Linked DNA regions of Homo sapiens. Each later gene encodes a partner of the first gene's protein in a complex. Each region holds a gene or a part of one and is shown on either strand. Other genes may lie near its edges. The genes, in order: DVL2 and AXIN1. A codon is read from its position in the direction of its gene.

Region 1 (12,139 bases):
GGGAGTTGCTGAGGGTGAGGGGGGCATCGGCGGCAGCAGCGGTGGCTGCTGTGGAGAGAGAGAGAGAGTGGCTGGTTGGGGGGAAGGGGCCAGAGTTGAGGGGTCCATAGCCTAGTAACTGGGTGGTGAGTACGGGGGCGGAGGGGGGGGCGGCGGCCGGAGAGGGCTAGGAACAGGGCCGGGGGGCCCGGTGGGGAGCCCGAAAAGCTGGAGACGGGGAGGGGCCAAAGCCCCGGATGGGGGCGGAGGGACGGCGAAATTGTGGGGAGCGCGGTATGGGCGGGGGGGGGGGGGCAGGTGGGGGCCGCGTCCGGGTTAGAGCTCCCGGGTCTGTCCCGGCCGTGAAGTAGCGTTGGATGCGTGTGCCTGTGTGTGTCTGGGGTGGGGGTGAGGGGCGCGCCGGGCCGCGTGCTCGAGTAGAAGGGGCCGGAGGGCGGGGAGCGGTTCGGCGTGGTCATCCTGGACCCTGGGGGCTGGCGGGCGGCGTGTGCGGTCTCGGAGGGCCCGAGGCGGTGGAGCGCGGCCGGGTAGGAACTCGGGGCTCCGGGCGCGTGTGAAGGACGGGGGCGGCTGGCGGCGGCCCGGACGCGGCCCCGGGAGCGGTACGGTGGGGTGGGGCGCTGAGGGATCCGAGTAGACTGGAGTCGAGAGAGACCGTGAGTTGGGGGGGCGGGGCGCCGGGCCTCCGGTTGGGGGAAGGGGAGCGCTATAGCGAGGCCTCAGAGGGCGCCGCGCCCAGGCTCCGCCCCTCGCGGGGCGGAAGGGGGAGCCGGGGCGGATCCAACACAGCTGGGGGCCTGCTGGCCTGGCAGAGGGACCTGGGAGAGCAGGGGGTTCACTTAGGAACAACGGGGTTTAGAGGGGGAGTTTTACACAGATTGTTCCTAGTGTCTTGACTCAGCTTTTATTGCTTTTCCAGATCCACCTCCGACCCTTAAGCCAGAGACTCAGGTGAGGTTTGCCTTACCTTTGCAGCCTAGTAGCCCTGCCTGACAACGCCCCCCGCCCCCCTTTTCTAGACCTCACTTAGGGACTGTGTTTCTGGGAATGCCATTCTTAAACTGTGTGGCTTTGCATGTGATCCATATCTCCTTCCTTTCAGCCACCAGAGAAACGGCGGAGAACAATTGAGGATTTCAACAAATTCTGCAGTTTTGTTTTGGCATATGCTGGTTACATTCCCCCTAGCAAAGAGGTAGGGGCAAGAGAATTACTGACTTGAGGCTGGTGTGGTGGGACTATAGAGTGACTGTTGTTCAAACAGAACTGTATTGCTTTATAGAAGGAGGCCCTTAGAAATTATATGTAAGACCAGGGAAGTTGGAGACTCTTAGGGCTGTGGTAGGAAAGCTGGTATGCGGGGAGTGGATGGCCGGGATAGCTAGCTTGAACAGCAGTGAAAAGGAAGGGGGATTTGGAGTCGCTGGTTGAGATTTTGGCATAGTCTTGAGGTGCTGTGAATGGAAGGTGTTTATGGATAAATTTTAGGGAGATGAAAATGGTAACAAATGAGGCTATACAGAAAAAGAGCTAAGGACATAACGGCTCCGGTCTGGGTGATACAGTGTTCCACAGGCCCTGGGCAGGGGCAGCGGTGAGGTGTCAGACTTGAGGGTAGAGGTAACACGGACTGGTCAAGAGGACATGCTGATGGGAATTGGGGTGGGGAGAAGTTTTTGGAGTACAGTGGGATTTAGTGGTTGAGGTAGGACATTTTGGGGTAAATCCAGTCACTCCTTTTCAAGCTGGGTTTGTGGAGGGGCTGAGATGACACTGGGGTTCTGCTGACCCTGGTCTCTTCCCCCTTTTAAGGAAAGTGACTGGCCAGCCTCTGGCTCCAGCTCTCCATTGCGAGGAGAGAGTGCGGCCGACAGTGATGGCTGGGACTCGGCCCCCTCAGATCTTCGAACCATCCAGACTTTTGTTAAGAAAGCAAAGTCATCCAAGAGAAGGGCAGCTCAAGCAGGTCCCACCCAGCCAGGACCCCCAAGGTCCACTTTCTCTCGTCTGCAGGCCCCCGACAGTGCTACCTTGCTTGAGAAGATGAAGCTCAAGGACTCTCTCTTTGATCTGGATGGGCCCAAAGTGGCATCTCCTTTGTCCCCCACATCCCTGACACATACCTCCCGGCCCCCTGCTGCTCTTACCCCCGTGCCCCTTTCCCAGGGGGACCTCTCCCATCCTCCTCGAAAGAAGGACCGAAAGAACCGAAAGTTGGGGCCAGGAGCTGGGGCTGGCTTTGGGGTGCTTCGGAGGCCTCGGCCAACTCCTGGGGATGGGGAAAAGAGATCTCGAATCAAGAAGAGCAAGAAGCGGAAGTTAAAAAAGGCAGAACGGGGGGATAGACTCCCACCTCCTGGGCCTCCCCAGGCACCCCCCAGTGATACAGACTCTGAAGAGGAGGAGGAAGAGGAGGAAGAGGAAGAAGAAGAAGAGATGGCAACAGTGGTAGGGGGTGAAGCCCCAGTCCCTGTGCTGCCAACACCCCCTGAGGCTCCTAGGCCCCCTGCCACAGTGCACCCTGAAGGAGTCCCTCCTGCTGACAGTGAAAGCAAGGAGGTGGGCAGCACTGAAACAAGCCAAGATGGAGATGCCAGCTCCAGTGAAGGCGAGATGCGGGTCATGGACGAGGACATCATGGTAGAATCAGGTGAGAGGTTCGGGCTGGGGCGAGGGGTTTGAGGGTGTTGTGGATCCAACAGCTCAGGCAGAATACCAAACAAACCTTTTTTTCCCCAGGTGATGACTCATGGGATCTGATCACATGTTACTGTCGAAAGCCCTTTGCAGGGCGGCCCATGATTGAGTGCAGCCTGTGTGGGACGTGGATCCACCTCTCCTGTGCTAAGATTAAGAAGACCAACGTCCCCGACTTCTTTTATTGCCAGAAATGCAAGGAACTGAGGCCAGAGGCCCGGCGGTTAGGGGGGCCTCCCAAATCTGGAGAGCCCTGATGGCACCAACTTTAGCCTGGAACTTCCAAATGACAACATGATTTGGGAACTGAGCCTCAGGGTCCTCAGCCTATCCCCTGGAGCTTGGATACTGTCTGCACTTCAAGGCAGGAATTCTCAAGGGAGACTTGTTTGAAAATGAGTGTCTCACTTTCCCACCCTATCCTTCCTCCCCACTCTGTGGACTTGAAATTGAATCCATTACGGTTGGGGATGGGAGGCTGTCTGTGTCCCGACACATAATCTCTGTCTCTTGGACCTGCCACCATCACTTTCTGGGTCAGGATTGGAATTGGGATGGAATGGGACAGTTGTCTATAAAACTCTAGTGTAAATATTAGCACTCCCCTCCCTCATCTTTTCTTCTATTTCACTCCCCATTTATTTTCTTCTACACCGGTTGTATTTTTAATTTTGGACTTCCCCTATTGGGCATGGCAGCTCAAAGGTGGAGTACTAGAGCCTGGCCAAGTGAGGAAGGAAAGCAGAAAGGTGACGATTCTCACTCACCTCTTTTGTTTTTAATAATATCGGCCGCTGTTTGTACAGACAGCCTGCGTGTTGTAAATAAAGCAGAGTGGGCTCTTTTGTGTTTATAGCCCTCACTGTCCTGCTCGGGAGGGAGGCTTTGGTGGCTGAAGACTAGCTGGAGGTGGGGCTGAAACCCACGTCTCAAAGTCCAATCTGAAGATATCACAGCACTGGGCCTTTCCCACCCCAAGACAAGTAAGCCACCTTAGAGCTTTCATTGTATTTGGCCCTCCCCACTCGAGTCTAGGAACCCCCACAGTCCCCACCTTCACTCCCTGCACGCACACTCCTGCGGGTCAGAGTTGCTTCGTGCTCCATCGTGGGTGGGGTAAAGCGGGGTGGGAGCCGATGGTCCGTTTCCTGAAGGCACAGGCCAGCTTAGCCTGGGTGCTCAGAGGACCTCGGCTGGGGTACACGTTTGGGGGCTGGGAGACCGTTGCTGAAGGCAGCGATCATGTGGCGGGGGCACTAGGCGGAGTCAGACGGTCACGTGATTGGGAGGGGATCACGTGACGGAGGGCGGCTGAGGAGCGCGGGGTGGCTGCCTTTAAGTCACGTGACATGAGGAGAGGTGGGCGGGTACCTGGAGGAAGCTCGCGGCGTCGGTGGCGGTGGCGCGCGGCGGCCGCTGAGACCGGGGCTTTGAGTCGCACCCCGCGGCCCGCCCCCCGCCGCCACCCTCGCAGATCCGTGCTTTTTCCCCTTTGCTTCTCTCCCGTACTGGGTCAGTCCTGTCCGCGCTCGCGCGTCGGTTTGCGGGTGTGCGCAGGCGCGGCAGGGGCCATTAGCCCTTTGGGTGGGCGGTGGAGCCCGGGAGCGCGCGGGCGAGACCATGGCGGGTAGCAGCACTGGGGGCGGTGGGGTTGGGGAGACGAAGGTGATTTACCACCTGGATGAGGAAGAGACTCCCTACCTGGTGAAGATCCCTGTCCCCGCCGAGCGCATCACCCTCGGCGATTTCAAGAGCGTCCTGCAGCGGCCCGCGGGCGCCAAGTACTTTTTCAAGTCTATGGATCAGGATTTCGGGTGAGCGCAAGGCCTAGATAGGACCGGCGGGGGCTTTGCTAGAGTGGATTGGGCGACATGGAGGGGCACACGTCTACTTTGGGCCACACTGGGATTTTCTGGCCTATGGTGGAGCAGATTGTACTATGCTGAGGTAGGTTGACTATCCCAGGATGGACAAGGTTATGCTTGGATAGATTGAGGCACACGGACAGACTAGGATATCCTAAACCAGATTAGACAAGATTAGGCTTTACTGGAATAGGTGGGGGCATACTGGTTTATGTTGGAGTATTCTAGTCTGTACTGAGTAAATTGATCCATTGTCTGGTTGTTTAGTACGTTCTCAGGAGTCCTGTAACGCCTGTAATCCCAGCACTTTGGGAGGCTGAGGCGGGCGGATCACGAGGTCAGGAGATCGAGGCCATCCTGGCTAACACGGTGAAACCCCATCTCTACTAACTAAAAATACAAAAAATTAGCCGGGCGTGGGGGCACGCGCCTGTAGTCCCAGCTACTTGGGTGGCTGAAGCAGGGAGAATCTCTTGAACCTGGGAGGCGGAGGTTGCAGTGAGCCGAGATCGCGCCACTGCACTCCAGCCTGGGCGACAGTGCGAGACTCCGTCTCAGAAAAAAAACAAAAAACACTTGGGCCATTATGGACTCTACTGGGTTGTATTGGTTAATCCTGGTTTCTCTTGGGGCAAGACTTGGTTTTATTGGAGCACTCGGTATAGGGGCAGACAAGGCTGTTGGGGCCTGTGCTAGCACAGGCAGCCGTATTGGGATGTTCCAATCTAGACTGGTGCAGACAGCTGCGTGTGGGGGCATTGTAGGCTGTGCTAGAATAGATTGGGCTATCCTAGGGTAATTTGGGACATTCAGGGCTATCTTGGACTAGATTGGCGTGTAAATAATGCAGAGAAAGCCCTTTTGTGTTTATGGTCTTTGGGGCTGAGCCTTCTGGGTCCTCAACCTCTGCTTTTTTTTTTTTTTTTTTTTGAGACAGTCTCGCTCTGTCGCCCAGGCTGGAGTGCAGTGGCGCATTCTCAGCTCACTGCAAGCTCTGCCTCCCGGGTCCACGCCATTCTCCTGCCTCAGCCTCCCAAGTAGCTGGGACTACAGGCGTCCGCCACCACACCCGGCTAATTTTTTGTATTTTTTAGTAGAGACGGGGTTTCACCGTTTTAGCCAGACTGGTCTCTGACTTCTGACCTCGTGATTCGCCCGCCTCAGCCTCCCAAAGTGCTGGGATTACAGGCGTGAGCCACCGCGCCCGGCCCAACCTCTGCTTTTTTGAAGGCAGGCTGGATTAAGTTGGGATAGCATGGGTTTTAGAAGAACTGAACAAACTGGACTCTAGCTAGAAAGATTGTTTGACATGGGGATGCTGATACTATCTTGGGAGTTATCTTGGCTTTAAGGCAAGGTTTTTCTAGTTGTCAGCAATGTAATCTTGGACAATTTATTTAAATTTTGTGTCTTGATCTCATCTGTGACATGGAGAAAATCACAGAATGAAATGGTTAGTTCACGTGTGTGGCACACGGGAAATTCTTGGTGAATGGTAATTGTAATTAGCATTGAGGCTGACCACTCTGTAAAGTAGGTTATGGTGATACAGAATAATTTGCCTCAGAGTGGACCAAGCTGTGCTGAGATTGTGTTATGTTGGGAAGAATCCTACATTATGCTGAGACGGGTTAGTAGTGACTGGGCTGTGTTGTCACGTTGACAGCAAATGGATTATGTTGATATATATCCTGGCTCCCATGACCATATTAGGCTAACGGGTTAATTAGACAAGGTGTCCTAATTTGGGGCTAAGGTTGTGTGTGGAAAGAGAGAGAGGAACAACTAGGGTAGAGAGTCTGATGCTTTATACGTTTATTCATTTAGTCGACAGTATTTGTTAATGCTTAAGTGTCAGTGTGTGGTGTGTGGCTAGGACATGGTGTTGACCAGAGTAAGTGTTCATGGTTTGATGTCATGGTCAAGAAGAAGGGGCAAGTCCGGTCCACCACAGGGAACCCATTGGAGAGATGACCCCAAGGCTGGGCTTTGGGATCTGTCAGGTTGAGCAGATTGCTTTGTGCAGAATTTTGTGCCCAGTGAGGCACAGGGGAATGGGAACCCCAGCTTGCCCTCTCCTTGGGAGCTTTCAGTCTAATGAGGAACTTCCATTGTTTGTTTGATCCAATGGGTGGTTTTTTTTTTTTTTTTTTTTTCTGAGGTGGAGTCTCACTCTGCCCAGGCTGGAGTGCAGCGGCGCAATCTCAGCTCACTGCAACCTTCGCCTACTGGGTTCAAGCGATTCTCCTGCTTTGGCCTCCGGAGTAGCTGGGATTATAGGTGTGCACCACCATGCCTGGCTAATTTTTATATTTTTAGTAGAGAAAGGGTTTCACCATGTTGGCCAGGCTGGTCTTGAACTCCTGACCTCAGGTAATCTGCCCACTTTGGCCTCTCAAAGTGCTGGGATTACAGGTGTGAGTCACTACGCCTGGCCTCTAATGGGTGTTTTTACTCAAGAAAGGACAGTCTTCTAGAAATGAATTAGAGAAAACTAAAGGAAAGTATAAGAGTAGAGGCTTTGATGAGGACCAAAGCCTTTTTTGGAAGGTTTTTTTTTTTTTTTTTTTTGAGCCGCCCAGGCTGGAATGCAGTGGCGCGATCTCGACTTACTGCAACCACTGTCTCCCGGGTTCAAGCGACTCTCCCATCTCAGCCTCCTGAGTAGCTGGGATTATAGACACCCACCATCATGCCCGGCTAATTTTTGTATTTTAGTAGAGATGGGGTTTCACCATGCTGGCCAGGCTGGTCTTGAACTCCTGACCTCAGGTGATCCGCCCGCCTCAGCCTCCCAAAGTGCTGGGATTACAGGTGTGAGCCACCGTGCCTGACCTTTTTGGAAGGTTTGTAAGGAACAGGGGTGGGGTTGAGAGGAGGCCACCAGCCAGTCTCATTAGATAGGTATCTCAGGCAGCCGCATCAGCGTGCGGGATTGCTTTTGAAACTGGACTAAGAGGTTTGAGTCAGACTCAAGGAAGTCTTTGGAGCAGCACTGTGCCCCTGAGGGTGCGTTAGGGAGAGGAGAAATAAGGAAAGGGGATTGAGTTTGGAGATTTCTTAGGTGTCGGAGTGAGTTCTTTCAATGTAAGAGAAGACCTGAACAGGGCAGGAGAAAGTCAACATCCTGGAGCCAGGTGAAGATTGGGAGAAAGTTTGATGGGGGTCGGGGTGGGGATGGTTGGTCCAGCTCACTGACCTCTACCTTGTCGCTTGGCAGGGTGGTGAAGGAAGAAATTTCAGATGACAACGCCCGCCTCCCCTGCTTCAACGGAAGGGTGGTATCCTGGGTAAGAGGTTCTGACACCGAGGACCAGGCCCCCTCAGCATTGCCAAGCTCCCTCAAGCCTCAGTCTGTTTCTGTATCCTCCCCAGGCCGCGCGTTAGCAGCCCTGGCTCTTTACCTCCTGTCTGTTTGGAGAGCCGGCGAGAGGCCCTCAGCCTTCTCCTTCTGGAGTCTCTAATACTTGCTAGGTTTTTTTGCTCTTCTCCAGCTCTCTGAGACCCTTTCTCATTCTTTCACTTACTGCCACCTGTCACACCCTGACTCCCAAGTGAGCCACTGTTTATCATTTGCACCCTTCTAGCTGGTGTCCTCAGATAATCCCCAACCCGAGATGGCCCCTCCAGTCCATGAGCCTCGGGCAGAACTGGCGCCTCCAGCCCCACCTTTACCTCCTTTGCCACCCGAGAGGACCAGCGGCATTGGGGACTCAAGGCCTCCATCCTTCCAGTGAGTCCTTCAGATTCTTGACTGCAGGGGAGGGAGGTGAGGAGGGAACCCAGGCCTTTGGTAGGGGACGCCTAGGATCCGGAGCCCTGTTCTCCTGATGTGGGTTGGAAACCATCTCTGCCTGTCCAGCCCTAATGTGTCCAGCAGCCATGAGAATCTGGAGCCTGAGACAGAAACCGAGTCAGTAGTGTCACTGAGGCGGGAGCGGCCTCGCAGGAGAGACAGCAGTGAGCATGGCGGTGAGGGGCAGGCCTGGGGGCCGGGAAGGGCTGGGCCAGACCCCAGCCTTGGTGGGGTGAGCAGGGGGAAGCTTGGTTCTTGAGCTTCCTGTCCATATGTAGCTGGGGGCCACAGGACTGGTGGCCCCTCAAGGCTGGAGCGCCACCTGGCCGGATACGAGAGCTCCTCTACCCTCATGACCAGCGAGCTGGAGAGTACCAGCCTGGGGGACTCGGACGAGGAGGACACCATGAGCAGGTGTGGCTCCGCACAGCTCTCCCCAGCGCACCCAGCCCCGTCTCGTCTTCCAGTCAATCCTCTTGTTCTTTCTCTTGGCCCCATGACCACTTTGGCCTACGTTTGCTCTCCTTCCCAACCTCCTGGTAGGTTCAGCAGCTCCACGGAGCAGAGCAGTGCCTCCCGCCTCCTTAAGCGCCACCGGCGGCGAAGGAAGCAGAGGCCACCCCGCCTGGAGAGGGTGAGGGGTTCCTACAGGAAGGCTGGTGCTGGGAGAAGGTGGGGCATGGGCTTTGGTTTGGGCGGTGCCAGGACACCGGCAGCACCCCAGGGTTGACCCTGGGTTATTGAAGGGCACTCTGGCTCCTTTTCCCACCACAGACGTCATCCTTCAGCAGCGTCACAGATTCCACAATGTCTCTCAATATCATCACAGTCACGCTAAACATGGGTATGGGGAGAGCCTGTGGCTAGGGCGTGGGGAGGGCCTGGTCTCTAGGGTTCCGGGCGTCCTGTGGCAGGGGCTCCTCTTTTCACATGGCCTCTCTCCACAGAGAAGTACAACTTCCTGGGTATCTCCATTGTTGGCCAGAGCAATGAGCGGGGAGACGGAGGCATCTACATTGGCTCCATCATGAAGGGTGGGGCTGTGGCGGCCGACGGGCGCATTGAGCCAGGGGACATGCTTTTGCAGGTGTGCTGGGGTAGGGCCACTGAGCTGCCCTGCACGGGGGCCCTCAGCCTCTCCCACCGTGTCTCTGACCCACTTGCCGTCGCTTCCAGGTGAATGACATGAACTTTGAGAACATGAGCAACGATGACGCTGTGCGGGTGCTGAGGGACATTGTGCACAAGCCTGGGTGAGTTGCCAAGCAGGTTGCCGGTCCTCAGTCCTCTTTTTTTTTCTCTTTCATGTTTTGTTTTGGAATTTTAATAAGTACTAAGACAGCCGGGCGTGGTGGCTCGAGCCTGTAAACCCAGCACTTTGGGAGGCCCAGATGGGTGGATCACCTGAGGTGAGGAGTTCGAGACCAGCCTGACCAATGTGGTGAAACCGTGTCTCTACTAAAAATAGAAAAATTAAGTGGGCATGGTGGCACATGCCTGTAGTCCCAGCTAGTGAGGTGGCTGAGACAGGAGAATCACTTGAACCCTGGGGGGTGGAGGTTGCAGTGAAACGAGATCACGCCACTGCACTCCAGCCTGGGCGACAGAGCAAGACTCCGTCTCAAAAAAAAAAAAAAGTGCTAAGACATAACGTTCAAAGTACATGAAACAAATGCATGACATAGCAAATAATACTAGAGTAAATATCCATGTCACTGCCATCTAGATCATCAAATAGGAGATTGCTGATACCCTAGAACTTCCTCCTCAGATGTCCCTTCCTGCTCCCAAATGCCTCACTGCCCCAGGGGTAGTCACTCTCCTGACTTCTTTGGCCATCACCATAACAAAGAAAAGCTTTGCCTCACTGGATAGTTACCACCCTTGCACGTATCCTTGAACACTGCAGTTTCGTTTTACCTGTTTTTGGACTTTCTGTGAATGGAACTGTACAGCGTGTACTCTCTTGTCTCACTTGGCAGTATGTTTTTAAGAGTTTTCCATGTTGATGAGTCATCCACATTGTGGTGCCTTCCACCCTCACCTTCTCTAGCCCAGCCGCGATGTGCTTGCTTCTCCCCCTCTTTGTGTCTCTTAATCCATCCTTGCTTCAGACCCCCGCCCTCCTGAGGCCTCCTCTTCCCCTGCGCCCTTGACTGGACTTCTCTTCCCCATAGCCCCATTGTGCTGACTGTGGCCAAGTGCTGGGATCCCTCTCCTCAGGCCTATTTCACTCTCCCCCGAAGTGAGTGACACTCAGGGAGGGGCCTGAAGTTGGGGGTGGGGGCTGCCCAGGAGGCTGGGGCCGGGCCTGTGGTCATGGGGAATGGGTGGGAGGAGGGTCCAGGCAGAGGTGGAACAGGAGGCTGAGTCAGGGAGGGACTGGGCTGGCTTTTGGGGACTGAGAATGGGTCATTTTGGTGCCATCTTTGTCCCAGATGAGCCCATCCAGCCAATTGACCCTGCTGCCTGGGTGTCCCATTCCGCGGCTCTGACTGGCACCTTCCCAGCCTATCCAGGTTCCTCCTCCATGAGCACCATTACATCTGGATCGTCTTTGCCTGATGGTGAGCCGCCAGCCCACCTCATCCCACCCTCCCAGCAGAAGGCTGTCCCGCAGTGGTCTGATCCATTGCCCTTGTGGGAGCGATCCCTGACTCTGGTTACCCGTTGTCTCCTCTGCCAGGCTGTGAAGGCCGGGGTCTCTCCGTCCATACGGACATGGCATCGGTGACCAAGGCCATGGCAGCTCCAGAGTCTGGACTGGAAGTCCGGGACCGCATGTGGCTCAAGATCACCATCCCTAATGCCTTTCTGGGTATGGCTGGGTCCTGGGCAGGTGGCTGGAGAAGGGGAGGAGGTGGTGACCAAAGCCAGGAATGGCACAGGCAGAGGCGAGAGCAGGAGTTGGAAGAAGAACCTGAGGCCTTTTTCCACTGTGGGTGCTCCCAGGCTCGGATGTGGTTGACTGGCTCTACCATCACGTGGAGGGCTTTCCTGAGCGGCGGGAGGCCCGCAAGTATGCCAGCGGGCTGCTCAAAGCAGGCCTGATCCGACACACCGTCAACAAGATCACCTTCTCTGAGCAGTGCTATTACGTCTTCGGAGACCTCAGTGGTGGCTGTGAGAGCTGTAAGTCCCCCTGCCCCAACTCTGGGAGTGTGGCTTTGCCTACCTTGTTCTGCCTCTCCAACCCTAGACCTAGCCCAGAAACCGCAGCCAGGGCCACCATGGATGGTCGAGCAGTGTGTGTCCCGCACTAGGTCCTGCACTGGCCGAGGATGGGGGCTGACGTCCACCCATGTGCTGCTGGACAAGCCATGTGCCAGGTGCAGGACTGTGTCCACCGGGGGAAGGTGCACCTCTTACCTGAGTCCCGCAAAGACGTGGGCTAGTGGCTGTGCCCCTGCCCTCATGGCAGAAGTAGATGGGAGTTTCTTGTCAGAGACCCTTGTGAACCCCTGTTTTGAGCCCCATCGTGGGTGGGTCTGGGAGAACTGTTCCCAGTTCCTCTCCATTCGGTGTCTTGGGGCCCTAGCCTCTTGAAGCAGTGATTTCTTCCTCTCTTCCCTTGCTTTCCAGACCTAGTCAACCTGTCTCTCAATGACAACGATGGCTCCAGTGGGGCTTCAGACCAGGATACCCTGGCTCCTCTGCCTGGGGCCACCCCCTGGCCCCTGCTGCCCACTTTCTCCTACCAATACCCTGCCCCACACCCCTACAGCCCGCAGCCTCCACCCTACCATGAGCTTTCATCTTACACCTATGGTGGGGGCAGTGC
Region 2 (16,368 bases), on another chromosome or scaffold:
ATCGGCACGTCTGCCACTGGCTGTCTGCAAAGTGCTTCCCTTTCACAACCCACCCACACAGCTCAGGACTGAGGTCCGCCCAGGCAAAGGGGCCTCTCGGTTCCAGAATCCTTTGGCCTGACAGGCAACTACAGATACTTTCGTGGACTCTGCTGAAACCTGTCTGAGACTATGGAGCTTTACGTGGCTAAGGAAGAGAAAAAATATGTTTGGAGTCCTTGCCCACTGACAGGTGCATAAAAATACAAGATGGACTGGGCACAGTGGCTCACGCCTATAATTCCAGCACTTTGGGAGGCCAAGGTGGGCGGACCACTTAAGGTCAAGATTTCGAGACCAGCCTGGCCAACATGGCGAAACCTTGTCTCTACTAAAAATACATAAAGTAGCCAGGAGTGGGGGCATGCACCTGTAATCCCAGCTACTCGGGAGGCTGAGACTAGAGAATCACTTGAACCTGAGAGGCAGAGGTTGCAGTGAGCTGAGATCGCGCCATTGCACTCCAGCCTGGGTGACAAGAGCGAAACTCCATCTTGGGGAAAAAAAAAAAAAGTGGGATGCAAGCTGGTGCTGTGGGGACAGAGTCCAGCAGAGCACCAGCAGAGTCCAGCAGAGTCTGGGATTACAGGCATGAGCCACCGTGCCTGGCCAGGAATCATTTTTAAAGTTTTCCTTGGACATCCACAAACAAAAAAAATTTCCCTTTGGGCAGGGTGTGGTGGTTCACACCTGCAACCCCTGCACTTTGGGAGGCCGAGACGGGCAGATCACTTGAGGTCAGGAGTTCAAAACCAGCCAGCCTGGTCTCAAAAAAAAAAAAAAAAAAAAAAAAAGGCCGGGCGTGGTGGCTCACACCTGTAATCCCAGCACTTTGGGAGGCTGAGGTAGGCGGATCACAAGGTCAGGAGATCGAGACCATCCTGGCTAACAAGGTGAAACCCCGTCTCTACTAAAAATACAAAAAAAAAAAAAATTAGCCGGGCGTGGTGACACGCGCCTGTAGTCCCAGCTGCTGAGGAGGCTGAGGCAGGAGAAGTGCTTGAACCCAGGAGGTGGAGCTTGCAGTGAGCCAAGATTGTGCCACTGCACTCCAGCCTTGGCGATAGAGCGAGACTCCATCTCAAAAAAAAAAAAAAAAAAAAAATTAGCCAGGCATGGCGGCAGGTGCCTATAATCCCAGCTACTGGGGAGGTTGGGGCAGGAGAACTGCTTCAACCTGGGAGGCGGAGGCTGCAGTAAGCCGAGATGGTGCCACTGCACTCCAACCTGTGTGACAGAGCAAGACTGTCTAAAAAAAAAAAAAAATTCTCTTCAGATCTGCTCAAACAGGGGAAGCAAATACCCCAAAGGAGACTAGAAACCCCCCACACCCAGGCAAGGGGAGCCCACGCAAGGGGCAGTATGGCTCACAAGCACCTCTGCCCCCTCTGCACCACAGCAGAGGTCCCCTTAACAAGACAAGCCTGGGGGCGACCCCACCCTGGGCCACACCCTTTGCACAGGAAGCAGAGTTCACCCTTGCAACACAGCCCCTCTGCAGCCGGGCACCTTCAACAGCACCACCGCCTGAGGTCCAACGGACATGGAAACCCAAAACCACTCCTCCACAGACAACTCTGTACACATTTTGGGCCCTTTCTTTTTCTTCTTCTTCTTCTTCTTTTTTTTTTTAACCATTTCTTCTCTTAACCTTTTAGGCCATTACCAGAAACACAGTCAATAAACTAATGAGCAGGTCCGACGGTTCCTCACGCACCCCTGCGGGAACCTGAACGGCAAGGGCTGGCTGCCCACCTCGAAAGGACCCACCGGTCCTCTGAGCAGCTCCAGGAACCAGCAGCCCAAGACAAGCCACCATGTTGCTCCTGCTGTGGACATGTCTGTTGTCCACTCTCTGGCCACAGCCACATTGACCAGCCCTATCCACAAGTGCATCACTGGACTGGCCCGGGAAGACACACGAAAATATCCAGGAAGACCCTGTCCCCAGTCATCAAGGAAGGTCAGGGCAGTCAACAGAAGGGGCCAGCGGCGAGGAGACTGCGGGCTTGACCAAGCGGACCTGGCAGGGGCATGCAAGGCCAGCCCTGAAGGCCACCTGGTGGGCCAAGCCACCCTGAAGGGAAGCAGAGCCTGAGCCCGCCAGCCAGGGAGTGCAGGCCCTGGGCCTCCCGCCCAACACTCAGTCAACAGCAGAACCTGCCTGCTGATCCACACCGCTGAAATGACGAGGTGAACCAGCCAGCTCTGTTCAAAGTTCCACTGACAATGGGAACAAAGACCCGAGGGTGCAGAAAGTGTTCCCACAGAGGCAGAGCGGGGGAGCCAGGGAGGAACCCCATGAAACCTTGGCCCAGGAGCTCAAAATGACAGTGGGTGAGTGGGACAAACACAGAAAAGGGCCAGGAATGGAGCTCTTTCCTAGGCTGAGACAAAGACCTAAGCAGAACACTTCACTTTCCTCAAATCAAGTATGTGAAACCACCACGCGGCTCACACACGGACCAACAAGGACCCGCACTCAGGCGTCCCACAGGGGAACTGGATGCCTGTGGCCGTGCTGGACCGCAGCAGCCCCACCGCAGGGGATGAGCGACTGTGGCAGAGATGCAGGCAAAGTAGCCTCCAGGACAGAGGGGTCAGCACCCGAGGGCTGGCCCTCCTGGCACGTTCCTCCACGCAAATTCCACCCCGGTGAGAGGTGACAGCGTGCTGGCAGTCCTCACAGCCCTCGCTCGCTCTCAGCGCCTCCTCTGCCTGGGCTCTCACTTTGGTGGCACTTGAGGAGCCCTTCAGCCCACCACTGCACTGTGGGAGCCCCTTTCTGGGCTGGCCAAGGCCGGAGCCGGCTCCCTCAGCTTGCGGGGAGGTGTGGAGGGAGAGGCGCGAGCGGGAACCGCGGCTGCATGCGCTTGCAGGCCAGCTGGAGTCCCGGGTGGGCGTGGGCTTGGTGGGCCCGGCACTCAGAGCAGCCGGCCAGCCCTGCCGGCCGCGGGCAATGAGGGGCTTAGCACCCGGGCCAGCGGCTGCGGAGGGTGTGCTGGGTCCCCCGGCAGTGCCGGCCCACCGGAGCTGCGCTCAATTTCTCGCTGGGTCTTAACTGCCTTCCTGCAGGGCAGGGCTCGGGAGCTGCAGCCCGCCATGCCTAAGCCCCCCACCCCCTCCGTGGGCTCCTGTGCGGACCGAGTCTCCCCGACGAGCGCCCGGTCCCATTGACCACCCAAGGGCTGAGGAGTGCGGGCGCACGGCACGGGACTGGCAGGCAGCTCCACCTGCAACCCCGGTGCGGGATCCACTGGGTGAAGCCAGCTGGGCTCCTGATTCTGGTGGGGACGTGGAGAACCTTTATGTCTAGCTCAGGGACTGTAAATACACCAATCGGCACTCTGTATCTAGCACAAGGTTTGTAAACACACCAATCAGCACTCTGTGTCTAGCTCAGGGTTTGTGAATGCACCAATCGACACTCTGTATCTAGCTACTCTGGTGGGGACTTGGAGAACCTTTGTGTGGACACTCTGTATCTAGCTAATCTGGTGAGGATGTGGAGAAGCTTTGTGTCTAGCTCAGGGATTGTAAACGCACCAATCAGCGCCCTGTCAAAACAGACCACTGGACTCTACCAATCAGCAGGATGTGGGTGGGGCCAGATAAGAGAATAAAAGCTGGCTGCGGGAGCCAGCAGTGGTAACTCGCTCGGGTCCCCTTCCATAGTGTGGAAGCTTTGTTCTTTCTCTCTTTCCAGTAAGTCTTGCTGCTGCTCACTCTTTGGGTCCACACTGCCTTTATGAGCTGTAACACTCACCGCGAAGATCTGCAGCTTCACTCCTGAAGCCAGTGAGACCACGAACCCACCAGAAGGAAGAAACTCCGAACACCTCCGAACGTCAGAAGGAACAAACTCCGGACAGGCCGCCTTTAGGAACTGTAACACTCACGGCAAGGGTCCGCGGCTTCATTCTTGAAGTCAGTGAGACCAAGAACCCACCAATTCCGGACACACCGGGACGACTAACCGGCTCTCCACAGGATATGCATCCCCTAACACGTGAGGCCTAAGCTCCAGGCCCTGCTGTGGTAGCAATGCTCACCAGCCGCCTGTTCAGTACCCACTCTCCTTTTCCCTTTGCATTACCCGCAGCCTTCCTTTGGAGGACTGCCCCCAGCTCCCCACTGGGGAGCAGCCGTCTGTCTGGGTGGAGAACCCACTTTCCTTCAGGAGTGACCCTGCTGCACAGCCCCCAGCGCACGCACCGTGACTGTGCTGAGACAGACGGGACACAGCGGCACACGTGCCCTCCTCAGAGCAACAGCGGGCCCATCCGTCAGAGCTGCGGGAAGCATCTGTAAACAAGGGAGCCCAGAGCCCAAGGTCACTGCAGCAGCCACCTCCAACACAAAGCCCACGAAGTCGCCCACCAGGCAGGCAAAGTCAGAATGGCACAAAGCAAAGGTGCCAGGCCCTAAGGCACACCTGAGGCTCTGCCTCAACAGTGCCCTTCAGGGTTGGGCTCAGGTGGGTGGGTTTCCACGACTTCCAACCTAGTGCACCCTCACCTACACCTGGCAGGACAAAGAGAATGGTCTAAATGTGAGGAACGCAGCCTGGACTTCATGCCCTGTCTGTGCTGACAAGCAACCATTCCAACATCAGAGATCTTCAAGCCACAAGGCTGCACCACAGGCCACCTCCCACAGAGAGGATTCAACCGCAGACACGACTCCCAAGCCCCAGGGTCCTCTGCCACCAGCAGCCCCAGAGCAGTCAAGTTAGGACCCAAACTGTGTAGACAGAGCTACACAAAATTAGACAGGAGAAGCCAATGTATCCCACTAATTTCATAGCAAAGGTTCCTTATTACAAATACAGCAAACCAAGGACAGACAGCAAAGCTACTGCTCGCAGCCAAGAACTGAAGAGTGGCTGGGAGGGAGGCACTGGGGTTCCAACAGTGGAAATCAGAACGGAGCTCATTTTCCTCCTGCAGCCCAGCCCTCAACTTCAGTCCCATCTTAAAAATAACCAGCCGGGGCCGGGCGCAGTGGCTCACACCTGGAATCCCAGCACTTTGGGAGGCTGAGGCGGGCAGATCTCTTGAGGAAAGGAGTTCGAGACCAGACTGGCCAACGTGGTAAAACCCCATCTCTACTAAAAATACAGAAAATTAGCTGGGCATGGTAGCTCACACTTGTAATCCCAGCTACTCGGGAGGCTGAGGCAGGAGACTCACTTGAACCCAGGAGGCAGAGGTTGCAGTGAGCTGAGATTGCACTACTGCACTCCAGCCTGGGCGACAGAGCGAGACTCCATCTCAAACAAAAAAACAAGCAAAAAAAATAACCAGCCAGGTGCAGTGGCTCCCACCCGTAATCCCAGCACTTTGGGAGGCTGAGATCACTGGAGTCCAGGAGCTCGAGACCATCCTGGCCAACGTGGCGAAACGCTGTCTCTACCACAAATACAAAAATTAGCCAGGCATGGTAGCACACACCTGTAATCCCAGCTACTCGGGAGGCAGGAGAATCACTTAAACCCAGGAGGCAGAAGTTGCAGTGAGCCGAGATAGCGAGATAGTGCTACTGCACTCCAGCCTGTGTGACAGAGCGAGACTCCATTTCAAAAAAAAAAAAAAGAAAGAAAGAAAGAAACTCTCAGTTTATACCAGGCTTACTCAACAGGATAACTTTGCGGCATATTGTGTCCTAAAATGCTTGCTAAATAAATACCACTTGGCTAAAGACAATGAACAAAAGGGAAAAAAGGCCGGGCGTGGTGGCCCACGTCTGTAATCCCCGCACTTTGGGAGACTGAGGCAGGCGATCACGAGGTCAGGAGATCGAGACCATCCTGGCTAACATGGTGAAACCCAGTCTCTACTAAAAATACAAAAAATTGGCCGGCATGGTGGCGGGCGCCTGTAGTCCCAGCTACTTGGGAGGCTGGGGCAGGAGAACGGCGTGAACCTGGGAGGCGGAGCTTGCAGTGAGCCGAGATGGCGCCACCGCACTCCAGCCTGGGCGATAGAGCAAGACTCCATCTCAAAAAAAAAAAAAAAATTAACCAATTAACCTACACAATCCTTTTTTGTTTTTTTTTTGTTTTTTTTCTGAGACAGAGTTTCACTCTTGTCCTCTTGTCGCCCAGGCTGGAGTGCAATGGCACAACCAAGGCTCACTGCAACCTCTGCCTCCCAGGTTCAAGCGATTCTCCTGCTTCAGCCTCCCGAGGAGCTGGGATTACAGGCATGCGCCAACTCGCCTATCTAATTTTTGTATTTTTAGTAGAAATGAGGATTCACCACGTTGGCCAGGATGGTCTCGAACTCCCGACCTCAGGTGATTCGCCCGCCTCGGCCTCCCAAAGTGCTGGGATTACAGGTGTGAGTCACTGCGCCCAGTCGACAGTCCATCTTAAATCGTATCACTTAGACTACAAGTTTAACCTTAGACATGTTTAATCCTGTGTTGATGAGCGAGTAGCCAATTTCTGTGTCACAGTAAGCTTGAAGAACTAATGCGAGTTTTTAATAACTCCTCAGGAGAGTCCCAGCACATGGGGCTGTGCTTTCGGAGTCTTGATTAGGTCAGCAGGGGTCACATGAATTCCAGGCTTTCAAAGTTACACAGGCCGGAGCCTCCGGTCACCAGCTCTAGGGAAAGAGTGGGAAATGCATGCGCTCTGCTCACAAGCACAGTAGATGCCAGCCCGAAAGCCAAATAAACCTCCAGGAACCACGCAGGGATCACAGGGAAGGAAGAACGAAGAAACAGGTTCCAAGGCTGAGCACCACTCTGCTCCCTCCCAGGCAACACACGCACCCCACAGGCCCTGCCAGGATCGCCTCAGGGTCCAGGCTGCTGTGGACTACACAACAGCACCAACAGATTTTGTTGGCAGGAAAAAAGGCCCAATCCTGGAATGCCCACTATAGCCACAGGAAGTTTTCAAAGTACTCTGACCATTCCCCACACGTAAAACGTCCCCCCTGCTATTTCTCAGCCTGTAGGAAGAAGCTTAGAAGATCATTATAAAAGCAATAATCTGGCCGGATGCGGCGGCTCACGCCTGTAATCCCAACACTTTGGGAGGCCGAGGCAGGCAGATCACCTGAGGTCGGGAGTTCGAGACCAGCCTGGCCAACATGGAGAAACCCCACCTCTACTAATAATGCAAAATTAGCCGGGCGTGGTGGCACATGCCTGTAATCCCAGCTACTCAGGAGGCTGAGGCAGGAGAATCGCTCAAACCCGGGAGGCGAAGGTTGCAGTGAGCTGAGATTGTACCATTGCACTCCAGCCTGAGCAACAAAAGTGAAACTCCGTCTCAAAAAAAAAAAAAAGCAAGAATCCAATTCTCCAATTCTTATCGATGCCCTGAAACGTCCACTCCTCCCTTTATTAAGCGGAAAGGACCATGTCTACTGGGTAGATCCAGCTCCTATTTAAGAGGTGACAGACTTTACTGCTGAAGGGTAAAGTTTACATGTCATTGTGACTTCTAAGAATTCCGATGTTCCTAATGACTCATAAAGTCATATATTTTAGTCTGTTCTCAGTAAAAGTGTTCTCAACATTACAAATATAAAAAAGTAATGACAAATGCAAAAGTATCACAAATAAGAACAGAACCAAAATTCAACCCCAGCGGCAGCAGGACATCCGGTGTGGGTTAACGCCCGCCTCATCAGCACCTTTCCCTGGCTTGTTCTCCAGCTCTCGGAGGTGAGTACAGAAAGTGGACGCCTGGCGTCGGACTCACCTGAACTCTCTGCCTTCGCTGTACCGTCTACTGGAGGAGACCCTCGGGGCAGCTGTCTCCAGGAGCAGCTTCTGAGGGAGTCTTCCGGGGGGAGCAGCGTCTCTGCCATCGTCCTCATCCATGTCCTGGTCACACTTCCATTCCTCATCTTCATTTAAGGTCGGCAGGTATCCAGATATGCCCTTCCCTGTCCCTGACCCAGAGCTCTGGTCACTACAGACTTTGGGGCTCTCCGAGCCTGTCCTCGTATATTCCAAATAAATATCAGACTTAAGGAAGGAGGGATAGGTGTTTTCCTCCATAGTGGCCTGGATTTCGGTCTGGGCCTGGTCAAACATGGCAGGATCGATCAGCTGCTTCATGATGCAGCCCTTTATGAAGCTCTTGGTGGCTGGCTTGGTCTGCCGGGACACGATGCCATTGTTATCAAGAATGTACTTTCGGTAGATGGCTCTCGCCAGCTTCAGCCTCTTCTCCTCGTTCGAGTCACAGGGCTCCAGCTTCCTGAAGCCAGTGCAGGCAAACCAGAAGTCCAGCAAGTCGGCACAGCCCTCCTGCTTCAGGAAAGTCCTGAACAGGCTTATCCCATCTTGGTCATCCAGCAGGGAATGCAGTGACTCAGCCCACTTCAAGTATGGTGGGGTGGGGGAGGCACTGCCCTCAGGCTCATACCCCAGGTCCAGATCCGAGCGCCTCGGAGTGGCCGTCGAAGTCTCACCTTTAATGCCAACACCTTTCCCGGAGCAGAAACTGTAGCTGGCGGGCCTCGGGTCTGTGGACACCAGTTCTCCCTCCTCACCAGGCACTGGGGGTCGGGGAGCATCTTCGGTGAAACTTGCTCCGAGGTCCAAGGGGAAACCCTGCTCTTGGATATTCATTTTGGGACTCTGCGTCAAGGAACAATGAGCGCTGCACCCTAATACATCAGTACTTACAGCTCCAAAGTGAATCAATCTGTCCTGTTGAAACCATTAAGAGGACAAGGATTAGGAAAGGTGGGTCCATGAAACACGACCAGAGGTTTTCTCAAGACAAGACTCACGATGACGCCCTCCCGCTCAAACTCAAAGCAAGAAACTCAGTTTAAATGTTCAATCAAGATATATTTTGGCCACAAGCATAGTTCTACTTTAAAGCAATTTCTGGAAACTTTTACAACTACAGGAATGCCTCTCATGCTAAGAAGGGATGCCCAGGACATGGGAATGCCACTCCCCACAAGTCTCACTGCACAAACATCACGGAGGCTGGCAGCTTGAGCACCTCCCACCTCAGCTGCAGAGCTGAGGGACAGGGAAGGCAGGAAGACCGGAGGAAGGAAAGCTGCCTCTAGTCCTGACTATGTGTACAAACCTGAGTGAGGGCTGGACCCTCACAAGTAAGATGGAGACAATCGCTCCACCAGCCCCAGCAACACTCAGAGAGAAAGGAAGGTGCGCTACAGCCCCGAAGGTGGTGGGCGTCTTCTGAACCCCACGTCCTCCAGGCCCACGGCCACTGTTTTCTACCTGCTGCATCACGTCACGCGTGGTACACCTTCCGACACATGAGAACACACTGCAGGGTGTTCCTCCGACTCTCAACACACGCCTCAAAGAGAGATAATCATGGGTCACCTTCAGCCCCATCGACCGAGGGATCAAGGACACCACCCAGGCCCACAGAGGCGCTCGGACACCGTCACTGGAGACAATCTTAAAATGCTCTGTCAGAATGCTGCACTTGACTCTGAAAAGCCTCTCTGATGAGGATTCAGATAGCAAATAGTAAATGGGTACTTCAAGGAACAGAGAAGGTACAGAATAAAAGGAAATGCAAATACAATTTTTAGCTAAGGAAGCTATAGTTCATGTGACTTCACTCCTTAAGCTGAAAACCAAACCACCCACCCTCTTAGACATCAGGGAACTATAGAATTTGCTGCTACTACTGCTGCTGCTGCTACAAGCCTGCAAGGGGTGTGCAAAAGAGAGTAGATAAGGGCTCCAACAGAACCCCTGCCATGGTCTATGGTCCTTCCTGCCACGTCCTACAGGAGCCCAGGAGCTCTGGCTATGCCTGTCAACCCGGCCATGCAGGTGACTGAAACAACAGCCTGCCATGATGTAAGTGGTCCTGGCTAAAAGGGGCTGGAGAGAGGGCTTTAGAGAAGCATGTTGGGTTCAAAAGCCTAGAGTGCTGAACAAGTCACAGCAAACAAATAAAACCCTAAAACCCAGGACCAACTGAAGGGGGATCTATCCCCCAGCCACCACTCCACACTGCTGTCCCTTGTCTATGTGGAATCTGTCCCCCACACCAACTTCCTCACATTGCACACACTTTACCAGCCAACAGCTGCTCACGGCTGGAAGCACGAAGGATCCACAGAGCCAGGCGTGGTGTCACGCACCTGTAGTCCCAGCTACTCAGGAGGCTGAGGCTGGAGGATCCCTTGAGCCCAAGAGTTCAAGACTAACCTGGGCAACATAGTGAGACCCAATCTCTACCAAAAAACAGTTCTTAATTAGCCGGGTATGGTAGCGTATGCCTGTAGTCTCAGCTACTTGGAAGACTGAGGCAAGAGGATCACTTGACCCAGGAGTTCAAGGCTGCAGTGAGCTATAATCGCACCCCACTGCACTCCAGCCTGGGCAACAGAGCAAGATCCTGTCTCTAAAAAAAAAATAGGCCGGGCACAGTGGCTCACACCTGTAATCCCAGCACTTTGGGAAGCCAAGGCGGGCGGATCACGAGGTCAAGAGATCGAGACCATCCTGGCTAACACGGTGAAACCCCATCTCTACTAAAAATACAAAAAATTAGCCAGGCATGGTGGTGGGCACCTGCAGTCCCAGCTACTCGGGAGACTGACGTGGGAGAATGGCATGAACCCGGGAGGCAGAGCTTGCAGTGAGCCGACACCGCGCCGGCCACTGCACTCCAGCTTGGGCGACAGAGTGAGACTCTGTCTCAAAAAAATAAAATAAAATAAAATAAAATAAAATTAGTAAATAAATAAGAAGCACCCATAGATGGAGGATGGTTTGCAACTATGTGCCCCCAATGACATTTCAGCAGCTAAGGACTTTTTGTGAACGCTGCTGGGTAGTATGTCATCTTGGCCTCAGCAGGAACACACAGCTTCTAAAGGTCAAGGCCCAGTGAGCTGTGACATCCTGCTGCTCACAGACCACTTCAGCGGCAGTCACTCCGTGAGCCACATCAGCATGGAGGGAGCACCCTGGGCGTGGGCACCTCCACACTAGCTCACGGTCATCTGTCTGGGACGCCATCACAGGAAAGAAGGCCTGCACCCTGACCACCTGAGCCTTACCACTATAGATGTACTACCATTCACTAGCTTGAAGAACCAAGTCACCGGAGAGTGGAAAGTGATTAATCAGACAGTGCTCAGAAGGGAGGCTAACCACAAGTCACCATCATGCTCTCATAAGGGACTTAAGTCTTCTGTGTTAATTATTGGTAGTAGCGGGACCCACAGCACCCAGCACAAGGTCCTGCAACTAACGGGCACCAGTAAGTCATTCACTGATGTAAAAAAGAAAAGACATTTGTCACAGACGCCAAACACTGGCTCTCTACAGGGGCTGAACTACTGTACCACAGAAAACAGCAGCAAATTCTTCCAAAACTAATGGGTTTTGTTGTTTTGTTTTTTGTTATTTTGAGACAGGGTCTCGCTCTGTCGCCTAGGCTGGACTGCAGTGGGGCGATCTCAGCTCACTGCAGCCTCAGCTTCCCAGGCTCAAGCAATTCTCCAGCCTCAGCCTCTCAAGTGGCGGGGACTACAGGCACGAGTCATCAACGCCCGGCTAATTACTGTATTTTGGGTTTCACCACGTTGGCCAGGCTGGTCTCAAACTCCTGAGCTCAAAGCAATCCACCCGCCTCGGCCTCCCAAAGTGTTGGGATTACAGGCCACTTTGCCTGGCCCCAAAACTAATGTTTTAATTCATGTGTGAACCAAATTTTCAGAGCCCAGAAGAAAATTTTCTTACAATCATGTGTATTTTTGGCTGTCAACTGACAGAAGACTTTTTGGTGTCCCTGGAAGCACATGAACCCCTCTACAAGCTACTGATGTTGTTGAAACATGTCCCAATTCCTGAAATCTCTGGGTTCCCACAGGGAAGCACACCAAGCATTTAGTGTACACACAAGTACACACCACACATAAAGCAGTCACGTTTACTCAGTTCAGTATCAAATGCCTGCAAGCACTGAATCTGGCCCACAGCCTGTAGCTACCATCAATAAAGTGAGTCCATAAAACGGGCGGGATGCCTACAAGTATGATACTGTATTTAAAATTCCCTTTCGTCACCGCTTAGGCATATGCTCCAGGCATCATGGCAGCAAACTCAATGCTACCTACGTGTGTAGGTATTTATTTTACCCAAACGTAACTTTTGACATTTTGATTTACATGGAGGAGGCAAGTAACACAACACGACTCTGACATCTTCCCAGCTGTCCATTGATTTAACTCTTGAAGGTTCAGGGCTACTATTTCACATGTAATTTATTCCCCCATCACTGAAATTCTCAATGACCAATGTAATCCGAAAAAGTCTGCTTAGCTTTTCTGAAACTAGAAACCCAAGACAAGTCAACACCAGCTGAAAATCAAACAAAAACAGTCTGTTTTTCATGCTTTCCCATCCTTGTCCCTGAATGGAGATCTTAAAACTGAAACCAAAGCCAGGTGAGGTGGCTCACGCCTGTAATCCCAGCACTTTGGGAGGCCGAGGTGGGCGGATCACCTGAGGTCGGGAGTTCAAGACCATCCTGACCCACATACAGAAACCCCATCTCTACTAAAAATACAAAATTAGTCAGGCTTGGTGGCGCATGCCTATAATCCCAGCTACTTGGGAAGGCTGAGGCAGGAGAATCGCTTGAACCTGGGAGGCGGAGGATGCGGTGAGCGGAGATCACGCCATTGGACTCCAGCCTGGGCAACAAGAGCAAAACTCTGTCTCAAAAAAAAAAAAAAACTGAAACCGAGCTATTGCTGAGTATCTCGGGTAGCCGGTTTAGACTGTGTTTTCTCCAAAATAGGGCCTGTGGATCCAAGTAAGCTCGAGATTCTTCCTGAAGAAGCAGAGAACAGAAGTGTGAGCAAAAACAAGGGGCTGACATGCACATAAGAACCCTTTATAAATTATCTTAGAAGGGGCCAGGCGCGGTGGCTCACGCCTGTAATCCCAACACTTTGGTAGGCCAAAGTGGGCAGATCACCTGAGGTCAGGAGTTCCAGGCCAGCCTGGTCAACATGGTGAAACCCTGTCTCTACTAAAAATACAAAAATTAGCCGGATGTGGTGGCGCATGCCTGTTATCCCAGCTACTCAGGCGGCTGAGGCAGGAAAACTGCTTGAACCCGGGAGGCGGAGGTTGCAGTGAGCCAAGATAGCGCCACTGCACTCCAGCCTGGGCTACAGTGCGAGACTCCGTCTCAAAAAAAAAAAATTATCTTAGAGGACGGTGGTCACCCCTGTAGTCCCAACACCTTGGAAGGCTGAGGCAGGTGGATCGCTTGAGGCCAAGAATTCAACACCTGCTGGGCAATATAGTGACACCCCATCTCTACAAAAAATATATATATATATATCTTATAGATGGGCTGAGAAAAATCCCCAGAGAACTGACATGTTTTTCTCTACTTTCTTCAATGCCAAGCTGAAAGTTTCACTGCTCGGGCAGTGCAGCTCTGGTTTCACGGGGGCTAAATTCCAAAGTGCGGGGCGGGGGTAGAATCTAAGAACCACACCCAAGAGAAAGACCAGTGTTTGGGCAGCAAGGCATCAACCTGGAGGGTACGGACGCCGGAGCACGCGGCTACTCAGGCCGAACCCCGACCCGGACCCGGCACGCGGCCTCGGCGAGGGCGGGCGGGAGTGTCCTCCTCCGGGACAGCCGGACTCCCGCCGACTTCTGGGCGGCGGGGAGGGCTCCAGGCCCGGCTCTCCCGGGCCCCCGCACGCGATGCGCGGCCCCTGCAGCTGCTCCGTGCCCCGAGACGCGCCCGAGGCCTCGGACCTCCAAGCGGCCACCGCGCCGCCAGTCCCGCTGCCCAGGGACACCCCGGCCCCAGCTCCCCGCGCGCCCACCCCCTCGGTCCCACGCGCGTCAGCCACCCGCGCCCCCCGCCGCTTCCGGGTCCCGCCCGCCCGGCCTACCGCGGCCTAGCCCGCCCCGGAGCCCGGCCCTACTCACCCGCGCGCGGTGGTGGCGGGACCCCGGGCCCGGCTCCCGGAGCGGCGCGGCGCGGTCCGGGCCCATGCGCTCAGCGGCAGCGCGGCGGGCGGGACCCGGCGGGGGCGCGGCCCGGGGCGGCCCCCATCTCGGCGGCTGCGGCTCGGCGGCCCGGAGGCGGACGCGGGGCAGGCCGCGGGGGCGCCGCAGGGGCCCAGCCGCCAGCTCCCACCCGCCCGCTCCGCGTGGACGCGGCTCCGGGCCGACTCCGGCCGGCTCTGGCGGCGGCAGCGGCCACGATCGCCTCCCGAGCCAGAGCCCGAGCCAGAGCGCCGAAGCCCAGGCCCGAGCGCCCCCGCCGGCGGCGTCCGGAAGTGCGGGGGCGGGGCCGGGGCGCGGGGACGAGGTGAGAGCGCGGGGCGGGGCCTCAACACGGGGCGGGGCCGGCAGCGCGGGGACGAGGTAAAGGGTGTGGGGCGGGGCTTCAGGCGCGGGGCGGGGCTGAAAGCGCGAGGATAAAGTGAGGAGCGTGGGGCGGGGCCGACAGCGAGGGGACAGGTGAGGAGCGCGGGGCGGGGCCGGGGCGTGGGCGGGGCCGGAAGCGAGAAGACGAGGTGAAGAGCTCGGGGCGGGGCCTCGGGCGTGGGGCGGGGACCAGGGAGTAAGGCGGGGCCCGCCTCGAGCAGAAGAGGTAAAGAGCGTGGGGCGGGGCCTCCGGCGCGGGGCGGGGCCGGAAGCGAGAAGACGAGTTGAGAAACATGGGCCGGGGTCTCTGCATGGCCGGGAGAGGGCGTGGTCAGTGCCTGCCGGGGGCGGGGCGTGCCGGGGGCGCGGTCGCGCCGTCTTCCCGAGGGGCGGTGCGGAAGCGGAGCCCGGGAGGCTTTGGCTTCCCAGAGAGCGGAGTGGGAGAGGCGGCGTTGCAGGTCCTTGGAATGGCCGCGGCCGTGGGGAGCACTGGGCGGACTGCGCGCCCCGAAGGGCGCACGTGGGGCGCAGCCCTTTTCTGCCGCCAGTACATCGGAGGGCAGTCAGGGGGCTGCAGGCCTCGGGGCTCCCTGCCCAGCCGGCCCTGGAGAGGAGGCCCTCGTGGGGACCGCCACGGCCTGCCCGCCGCCGTGAGGGAAGCAGGCTCCCAGGAGTGGGGTGGTCGGCAGGCAGGGATGGCCAGGGCCCTTGGAAGGTGGGGTGGGCTCCACCCTCCTGAGTCCCAAGGCAGCCTGGACTCACAGCGCCAGGGAACACGTTAGGCCCCAATATATGGTGGCTCTCACCCGGACAGGAGCCACAACCTCCAAAGAGCCCACCGGCTAGGACCCTCTGCCTTGATTTCTCCCAGGCACCATCTAGTATCAGAGAAGGGTTCTCCTTCCCTCCGCTGCCCAGGCCAGCCCGAGAGCAAGGCCATTGGAGTGTCCAGACCCCTGCACCCCTTCCCCTGGGCTGTCTCCACAGCGGCCCTGCCAAGGGGTCCAGTCCGATCCTGCCACCCTGGCTGCCCAGATCCGTGTCACTTGCCCTGCAGGCCACAGAGCATGAGGTCACAGCCCCAGGCACCCCACGGCAGAGAGGCACGGGCCCCCAGCAGCAGCCCCAGCACCAGCTCTGGCCAGCCCAACCCTGTCAGAACCAACCCTCTGCTCTCCACCCAGGCCTCAGCCAACCATCAGGCCCTCCCCAAGGAGGAGGATGTGAGTACCAGGATCTGCCGCCTCCCACAACAGCCCAGGGCCCTGTCCTTCCCAGAGCACTATTGGGCCTGGCACCTCCCGGGATGCTCCAGGCAGCCCCCTGGGGTCAGCTATACCCCCGTTTCACAGAGGAGACAGCTGCAGTTCAGGCCACACAGGACCAGCTCGCCTCCTGTTGGGTGAGGGCTCCCCACCTCGTCCGCCCCACACCTGAGACAACAGCCCTCATCTATCTGCCCTCTGCTTTAGGCCTCCCAGGGCTCCCTGCTGCCCACAGCCCTTCAGGGCCCTTCCTAAGGGCGCCTCCCCCACACCTTCCCCTAGATGCGTCTGGCCACTTGCCCGCCTCCGTGCTTCCGTGTCCATCATGTCCATACCTGCCAGCTCCCTCCAGGCACCTCTCACGTCACCCCCATGTCTTTCCCTGGGCTGTGTCACCCTGGATGCCCAGCCTCACCCTTCAGAGCTCCCAGGCAAGCACAGAAGTCCCAGCTCCAGGCTCCCCGAGCTTCCAGCCTACCCCCAACCAGATGCCCACAGGTGGGACTGCATGGGGAACCATGTGTGGAAGCCTCCCAGCCCTCGCCCCTGCCAGCACTCAGCATGGTGTCTGATGCCAGCATCGCTGTGTGGGAAAGGGGGTAGCATGGGACAAGGGCCACTAGGCTGTCCCCAGCCTGCCAAGGGCCCAGGCCCACCTCCCAGGGCCATCACTGTGCTC

Evidence for each region.
Region 2: the proteins of DVL2 (region 1) and AXIN1 are in contact, whole or in part, in a crystal structure (PDB 6JCK), measured with the Homo sapiens proteins. Residues at the interface, in NP_004413.1 of Homo sapiens: Lys15 (codon at 4,360), Ile17 (codon at 4,366), Tyr18 (codon at 4,369), Glu23 (codon at 4,384), Glu24 (codon at 4,387), Thr25 (codon at 4,390), Pro26 (codon at 4,393), Tyr27 (codon at 4,396), Leu28 (codon at 4,399), Val29 (codon at 4,402), Val46 (codon at 4,453), Leu47 (codon at 4,456), Gln48 (codon at 4,459), Arg49 (codon at 4,462), Pro50 (codon at 4,465), Phe81, Arg84; in NP_003493.1 of Homo sapiens: Arg821, Tyr823, Lys825, Lys826, Glu830, Phe831, Val835, Val836, Phe837, Glu838, Glu839, Lys857, Glu859, Asp862.

What each region holds. Positions count from the first base shown.
Region 1 is NC_000017.11:7,226,441-7,238,579, reverse strand, and holds the start of DVL2 (segment polarity protein dishevelled homolog DVL-2), read left to right. Parts: upstream 1-4,062; 5' UTR 4,063-4,317; coding exon 4,318-4,511; intron 4,512-7,385; exon of another isoform or gene 7,386-7,699; intron 7,700-7,782; coding exon 7,783-7,852; intron 7,853-8,149; coding exon 8,150-8,295; intron 8,296-8,424; coding exon 8,425-8,534; intron 8,535-8,636; coding exon 8,637-8,772; intron 8,773-8,901; coding exon 8,902-8,992; exon of another isoform or gene 8,993-9,030; intron 9,031-9,132; coding exon 9,133-9,202; intron 9,203-9,305; coding exon 9,306-9,445; intron 9,446-9,534; coding exon 9,535-9,611; intron 9,612-10,535; coding exon 10,536-10,603; intron 10,604-10,796; coding exon 10,797-10,925; intron 10,926-11,044; coding exon 11,045-11,176; intron 11,177-11,310; coding exon 11,311-11,490; intron 11,491-11,621; coding exon of another isoform or gene 11,622-11,650; exon of another isoform or gene 11,651-11,693; intron 11,694-11,940; coding exon 11,941-12,139. Other genes in the region: PHF23 (PHD finger protein 23), read left to right, coding at 920-951, 1,103-1,195, 1,813-2,650, 2,740-2,954.
Region 2 is NC_000016.10:338,389-354,756, forward strand, and holds the start of AXIN1 (axin-1), read right to left. Parts: upstream 14,336-16,368; 5' UTR 14,047-14,335; coding exon of another isoform or gene 13,981-14,046; intron 8,719-13,980; coding exon of another isoform or gene 8,638-8,718; coding exon 7,760-8,637; intron 1-7,759. UniProt on the Homo sapiens protein: Component of the beta-catenin destruction complex required for regulating CTNNB1 levels through phosphorylation and ubiquitination, and modulating Wnt-signaling.